2 linked regions of the Homo sapiens genome follow. The protein of the gene in region 1 purifies or fractionates together with the protein of each later gene. This does not show direct contact. Each region holds a gene or a part of one and is shown on either strand. Other genes may lie near its edges.

The links. Proteins that work in one complex are often made in the same cells at the same time.
Region 2: the proteins of IL36A (region 1) and GOT1 purify together in Homo sapiens (affinity purification with mass spectrometry; one large-scale study listed by BioGRID and IntAct). This does not show direct contact.

The regions. Positions count from the first base shown.
Region 1 is NC_000002.12:113,004,224-113,008,343, forward strand, and holds IL36A (interleukin-36 alpha), read left to right. Parts: upstream 1-1,235; 5' UTR 1,236-1,648; coding exon 1,649-1,658; intron 1,659-1,750; coding exon 1,751-1,864; intron 1,865-2,374; coding exon 2,375-2,514; intron 2,515-3,608; coding exon 3,609-3,821; downstream 3,822-4,120. UniProt on the Homo sapiens protein: Cytokine that binds to and signals through the IL1RL2/IL-36R receptor which in turn activates NF-kappa-B and MAPK signaling pathways in target cells linked to a pro-inflammatory response.
Region 2 is NC_000010.11:99,399,574-99,403,185, forward strand, and holds part of GOT1 (aspartate aminotransferase, cytoplasmic), read right to left. Parts: intron 3,150-3,612; coding exon 3,007-3,149; intron 1-3,006. UniProt on the Homo sapiens protein: Biosynthesis of L-glutamate from L-aspartate or L-cysteine. Important regulator of levels of glutamate, the major excitatory neurotransmitter of the vertebrate central nervous system. Acts as a scavenger of glutamate in brain neuroprotection.

The sequences.
Region 1 (4,120 bases):
TTCAAACTGATGTCTTACCTTTCTTAGTGCCTCAAACTAGATCCTGTTCAAACACCTTATAACAAGTTAGTAGGAGTTTATTTTGGTGCAAAATAATTCAAAATCCATGCATAGTTTTTTTCATAATATGCATTTTCCATGAACTTTTTGATGACCTCTTGTATGAAAGGGGATTTATTAGGGGAATGAACTCATGCAATTTTGGAGGCTGAGAAATCCCATGACAGACCACCTGCAAGCTGGAGACCCTGGGATGCAGGTAACATGCTCAGTTCAAGTCCTAAAGCCTCAGAACTAGGAAGCCACTGGTGTAATTCTCACTTTGGGATAGAAAGCCTGAGAACCCAGGGAGATGCTGATATTAAGTCCTGGAGTCCAAAGTCTGGAGTTATAATGTCCAAAGGCAGGAGAGAATGCCCCAGCTCCAGGAGAGACAGAAAATCACCTTTTCTCTGTCTTTTCCATGCCATCCATGCCCCCGGCCAGTTGGATGGATCCCACCTACGTTGAGGGTAGATGTTCCCCACTAGTACACTGACTTACACACCAATCTTCTTTGGAAACACCCTCATAGACTTACCCCAAACTAATGTATTACCAGTTCTTTAAGTATTCCTTAAACCAGTCAAATTGACACTTAAAATTTACTATCACGCTACCTATACTAGAGATAGTGATCTAGAGTCCATTGAGGTGGCTAGAGTGCTCAGGAGCTGGCTTTGCTACAGTAATACTCCCTTCTTCCATGGAGAAGCAGCATGCACAGTGGCTCTGAGAAGCTGGAGGAGGGTCACTGGAGTGAGTGGGCTTCTGGTCTGAAATTGACCAAGAATATAGTTCCTGTGGACCAGGAGTGATTAGAAGCTACAGAGGTCTTAAGAGACCTATCCCTCCTCAGTCTACCTTGCACTTACTGAGGGCTCCCACTCTTAGGAATAATTCCATCGTTTCATTTTGTGGCATCAGAGATGAGTCATTGACCCGGAAGAAGTCCCGTAATGTTTCTCAACTCAGTATCTGTGACTATATTTCCTGCTCTTAAAAGTTTAGCATGCCCTCATGTTTCAGGTTGCTTGGAGAAGTCTTAACCATGCTGTTCACATAAAGAGTCACTAAATCCTCTGGCATCAGGAACTAGAAAATATCCTGAGTGTTGGGCAGTGCCAGACTTAGTGAGGCAGAACTTCCTTCCTTGCCCATGTGGATAAAAGGCCTGGGCCCTGTTACAGCCTGTCAGAAAACCCAAGTGCAGTAGAAGCCATTGTTCATAATGGTAGGGATACAGGGTCCTTCGTAACAGATTATCAGTGTGGCCTATGCTGGAAAGTCTGGTGACCTCTGATTTTTTTTGCTTCCAGGTCTTTGGCCTTGGCACTCTTTGTCATATTAGAGTTCCTGGGTCTAGGCCTGGGCAGGATTCATAGGTGCAGCTGCTTCTGCTGGAGGTAGACTGCATCCAACAAAGTAAGGGTGCTGGGTGAGTTCTGGGAGTATAGATTCTGACTGGGGTCACTGCTGGGCTGGCCGCCAGTCTTTCATCTGACCCAGGGTTAAACTGTGGCTTGGGACTGACTCAGGTCCTCTCTTGGGGTCGGTCTGCACATAAAAGGACTCCTATCCTTGGCAGTTCTGAAACAACACCACCACAATGGAAAAAGGTAAAGATCCTCGTGGAAGGGCGAAAAATTGACAAGGGGGTGATATTCTGTGCTCTCATTCTTACTAATTTACATTTTGACTTTCTCAACAGCATTGAAAATTGACACACCTCAGCAGGGGAGCATTCAGGATATCAATCATCGGGTGTGGGTTCTTCAGGACCAGACGCTCATAGCAGTCCCGAGGAAGGACCGTATGTCTCCAGGTGAGTAGCCACGGTCTGTGAAAGGCAGCTCCTTTGGCCAGTGCTGTTGTGTGTTTGGTGCTCAGATGTTATTCCACAGTGGGCTTGTTAACCGGGCATATCTACAGAGAGGAGCATCTCACAGACAATAATGAATAGAGGGTGAGCATAAGGTTGTTCTGGGACTATGGTCATGAAGTCAGAGAAGAGAGAGAAGGCTTAAGGGAGACTGAAGGGTCAGCCTATGAAAAACAGTGGAAGACGTATTCTGAGAAACTTCAAGGAGTAAGAGTAGGACAAAAGAGGGTAATCTATGGGAGGACCAGTTTTTGAATCCATGAAAGACTGACTTTTCTAATGGAAAGTGTTCCCCAAACATAGGATGGGTGTCCCGGTTAGGTGGTGGGTGGTGAGGTGACCATTCTATGAGTGCACTGTGAGTGTCAGTTAGCAGATTCCCTTAAAACTCTGGCTCAGAGGTACCACCCTGGAAATGGCAGCTGAACACCACTTTTCACATCGTGTTCCCAGTCACTATTGCCTTAATCTCATGCCGACATGTGGAGACCCTTGAGAAAGACAGAGGGAACCCCATCTACCTGGGCCTGAATGGACTCAATCTCTGCCTGATGTGTGCTAAAGTCGGGGACCAGCCCACACTGCAGCTGAAGGTGAGTGTGGAAGACAGGTCCTGCCATTTATTTGATGGAAACTCAGATTTCAGGATCTTTTAAAAGACAATGTACTTATTATGCTCATGCATTTTTATTTTTGGTTTCCTTGGGGTTGGTATATGTTATGAAAGACTAAGAAAAATTGCAGGGACATTTTGAAACAAACCTACTAAAATGACTTATTATTTTAATTTACAAAAATATTAATAATTTGGCAAGGATGATGTCTAACTTCAATAGAACACACACACAGAGTAAAATCAGCAAGGACATTTTAGCAGTTAATTATCACAAAGTAGACGAACTTATTAAAACATCTTTTTGGCAAAAAATACATTGCAACTTTAAATGAACAAACATAATTCTCTGTAATAAACACTTCAATAATCGCAATTTTCCATTATTAAAAAAAGATAATTATAGCAGGCCTCTGTGTACTACAGGAACTCTCTTGACCCTTTTCAGTAAACAAGCATAAGCAGACACTCAACTTGATGACAAGATATAAAACAGTGTTTTTCAGCCAGGGGTGATATTGCTCCAGGGACATTTGTCAATGTCTGGAGATGTTTTGGTTGTGACAACCTGGGATGGGGGTGTGATACTTGCATTTATCGGGTAGATGACAGGGATGCTACTAAACATCCTATATTATTATACAGGACAGACCCTGAAAACAAAGAATCATCTTGCCTAAAATGTCAATAGTGCTGAAGGTGCAGAAACCTGACAGAAAATAACTGTTTTAATTTGAAATTTACAGTAACTGTTACATAAATATTCTTTAAGTTTCTGTTTCTGAACAACAAATAATGGCCCAATCAATGCTTTGTATTCTCAAAAACTTTCATGTCAACACATTTTTCAGAGCCTCACATTAAAAACCATTAAAATTTGTAGCCTGAGTTTCAACCATAATCTTAAAAGAATTTAATTTATATGATTTTCAATCCCATAATATGAAACAGAGGTCTCCAAGCTGCTTCAATGAGTAGGGAATGCTATCCTTGGACGTGGAATATCAGTGTGTAAAGAATGTGAAACATTCAAACAGTTATGTTTCTTGCTGGTGTCTCCTTCGCACCCTTCAGGAAAAGGATATAATGGATTTGTACAACCAACCCGAGCCTGTGAAGTCCTTTCTCTTCTACCACAGCCAGAGTGGCAGGAACTCCACCTTCGAGTCTGTGGCTTTCCCTGGCTGGTTCATCGCTGTCAGCTCTGAAGGAGGCTGTCCTCTCATCCTTACCCAAGAACTGGGGAAAGCCAACACTACTGACTTTGGGTTAACTATGCTGTTTTAAGGTCAGTTGGGTTTGGAGGATAGTCTCCATGCAGGGAAAATCTTAGTATAATCTTAGCCTGGAATGGGCAGGGAGAATTTGTTATTGGACTTTCCACCTAAGAGTATCTTGCTGCCTCCCAATATATTCATGCAGTGACCTAAGTGCTGGACTGGTCCCTCTCCCTGGGGCCATGTGGAAAATAGTCCAGGGAAATTGAGGGCCTTGCCATGAGCATGTGGCTGAAATATGGCACCATTACAAAAATAATAAGGAAAGCTCTACTTAACATAATTGCTAATAATGCTCCAAGTAAAAAT
Region 2 (3,612 bases), on another chromosome or scaffold:
CAGCCTGGGCATCATAAGGAGACCCTGTCTCTACAAAAAAATCTTAAAAATTAGCCGGGCATGGTGGCACACACCTGTGGTCCCAGGTACTACGAAGGCTGAGGTGGGTGGATTGCTTGGGCCTGGGAGGTTGAGGCTACAGTAAGCCATGATTGTGACGCCGCACTCCAGCCTGGGCAACAGAGTGAGACTCTGACTCAAAAATAAATAAATAAATTTGTATGCCTTTTCTCCTATTAATCTGCCTCTTGTCAGCTGATTTCCAGCAAACTTTCAGAGGGCAAAGGGTAAGTTTTCCCTTGACCCCTCCAAACCAGTGAACAAAGAAAGCAAGCTTAAGAAGAGGTTTACCTGTGTGAATTGGTCACCCAAGGGGATAGAGCCTCAAGCCAACACAGCCCTGGGTGTGCCACTCTTTCTAAAAGCCTGTGCCCTGAGGCAGTGATTAAATGACTCCTACCCTGGCTTTTGGTTTTGTTTTAGTAAAAATGAGGCCTTTCTACTTTTTCAGAGAAGGGAAGTGTCACAGTTTGAAAAGCTAGTAAAAGTTATGGACTCTTTCCCTAGAGCAGGGCCAAAATACACATATACAATTTTTTAAACATCATTTCAGGGGCTTCACAGTTCTCCTAAACGTACATCCAGGGATTCCAGGTTAAAAGCCCCATTCTGACAGAAAAAAGATAACAAAGGAAGTATTGTAATGTGAGAATTGTAGAAACTAGGTGGCGGATATATAGGGGTTCACTGTACAATTCCTCCAACTTTTCTGTATGTTTAAAACTTTTCTGGCCAGGTGCAGTGGCTCATGCCTGTAATCCCAGCACCTTGGGAGACCGAGGCGGGCAGATCACTTGAGCTCAGGAGTTTGAGACCAGCCTGAGCAATATGGTGAGACCCCGTTTCTACAAAAAATTAGCCGGGCATGGTGGTTCACGCCTGTGGTCCCAGCCACTTGGACACTGAGGTGGAATGATCACCTGAGCCCAGGGGGCAGAAGTTGCAGTGGCCCGAGATTGCACCGCTGTACTCCACCCTGGGTGACAGAGCGAGACCGTGTCTGAAACAAACAAACAAACAAAAAAGGCCAGGCACAGTGGCTCACGCCTGTAATCCCAGCACTGTGGGAGGCCAAGGCAGGTAGATCACTTAAGGTCAGGAGTTTGAGACCAGCCTGGTCAACATGGTGAAACCCTGTCTCTACTAAAAATACAAAAATTAGCTGGGTGTGGTGGCTCATGCCTGTAGTCCCAGCTACTTGAGAGGCTGAGGCAGGAGAATCGCTTGAATCCAGGAGGTGGAGGTTGCAGTGAGCCAAGATTGTGCCACTGCACTCCAGCCTGAGCAACAGAGCAAGACTCTGTCTCAAAAAGAAAAAAAAAGTTGGGAGGAAAACAAAACCCCTGTTTTTAATAAGGGCAAATGATGCCAAGCGCTAAAAATATAACTTTTGTGTTATAAGCACAGTTCTATTCTCATCATTTTTCCAATTCGTGATATTAATAAAACTAATTTCCTCCTGTGGATAATGGGAAGATATGGATATTTTACAGGGAGACATTCCCATATTGTGAGCTTTTAGACTATTACTACTAAAGACTATTAATATTTCTGTTACATGTAATATTTTTATAATTGTGAGTGAACTAATTCTCTGTTCCTCAGTCAAGAGGACATCTACAGCTAACTGAGCTATTTCTTTACTTTCTTAGGTAGCTTCATTTTACCCCAAAGTATTTTGAGGGGTCCACAATACAAGCTCTATTAACTGCCATTTATATTTATTTCCTTTGGATTTTTCTGAGCCCACTTCACACTGGCACTGTGATGGCCCCAGTTAAATACCTCCCCACGGCCTCTGCCGTTCTGCCTACAAACCAAGCCAGCCACACATCCCTCCCTAGAGTCACTGGGACACACAGGTGAGTCGCCACATCTGCACTGTGGGAATTACTAAAGAAATGACGCCTGTAATCTCAGCTACTCGGGAGGCTGAGGCAGGAGAATAACCTGAAGCCGGGAGGCGGAGGTTGCAGTGAGTCGAGATCACACCACTGCACTCCAGCCTGGGCAACAGAGCAAGACTCCATCTCAAAAAAAAAAAGAAGAAATGACTCTTCTGTCATCAGATGGGACTGCAGATGGCAGATGTGCCCTACTGACAATTGACCAAGACCATGCATGACCACCTACTAGATTTTCAATCAGCTTTTAATTCCAACCACCAATCTAGGTTCTTTTCTTTTTTTTTTGAGACGGAGTCTCGCTCTGTCGCCCAGGCTGGAGTGCAGTGGTGCGGTCTCGACTCACTGCAAGCTCTGCCTCCTGGATTCAAGTGATTCTCCTGCCTCAGTCTCCCTAGTAGCTGGGACTACAGGCGCCTGCCACCACGCCCGGCTAATTTTTTTGTATTTTTAATAGACACGGGGTTTCACCATGTTAGCCAGGATGGTCTTGATCTCCTGATCTCGTGATCTGCCCACCTCAGCCTCCCAAAGTGTTGGGATTACAGGTGTGAGCCACTGTGCCCAGCCCAATCTAGGTTCTTGTTTATGAAATGCAGAGATAACTTTGTAATCTCTTTTTGAGGATAATACCTAGAAATAAGAAAGACCTGTCAAGAAATCAGTTCCCTGAATAATCATTATATTCAGGATTAAGGCAAACCCAAAATGTACCTGAGCATTTATAAGAACCTTTCATAAATTAAGGCTCCCAGCTACCAATCCTGTTACCTCCCAGCTGGCTCTGAGCCACTTCCCAGCCCACAAACACGGAAATATCTTGGCTGTGGGTCAGCAGGGCAGACCACAATACTCTTCTGAGACCCAGAGAGTTTATGAGATGGTGGGACACCCTAAGAAAACCTAACTTGTCCTGGTCCAAAGCAATGGCTGCCCAATTAGGCAAAGGCTGTGAAAGTGAGCTCAGCTCAAGGCGAGCGACTGAAAGGAATGTTGTGTGTCTACATGCACGCATGGGCTGGAGGTGGTGGGGGCCACTTACGGTTCAACCCAGTGAAGCTGAACATGCCAATTTGATCAGTGATGTGGTTCCAGGTCCCAGGGGTTTTGAGGGCTTCTAGTCGTGCCCTGAGTTCAGATCTCATGGTCAGAATCCGGTCAGCCATTGTCTTCACATTACCTGTCCTGAAGCATGGACAGTGACGTAAATACCAATCCAGACAGGAAAGATGGTACCCGAAAACACACAGGTTTAAAAACTCTAATTTAAACGACAGCTGACAATGGGATCATAACCTGCCTATTATGGCATGTGGATGTCTGGATGGGTGGATTAACATACCAGAGAGAGAGACTTAGGGGGCAGAAGGAAAGGACTGCATTTACTAGTGAGTCTAGTGCTAGTCTTGGGTATACTGGCTAGAATACACTCACATTTCAACTCAGGCTTCACCGAGGTGCTGCTATAGATATTAATAGGGCAATATGTTTCATCAGGACTTACTAAATAAAGATTGCAGATTTAGCTACTATATAAAAATTACTGTTCTAAAATAAGATAAAGTGTATGTAAATTACAGATAAAAACCAAGAGCTCCCAAACTGTTAAACTGCCTAGACGTTCGATATTCTATTTTGCTGGGAATAC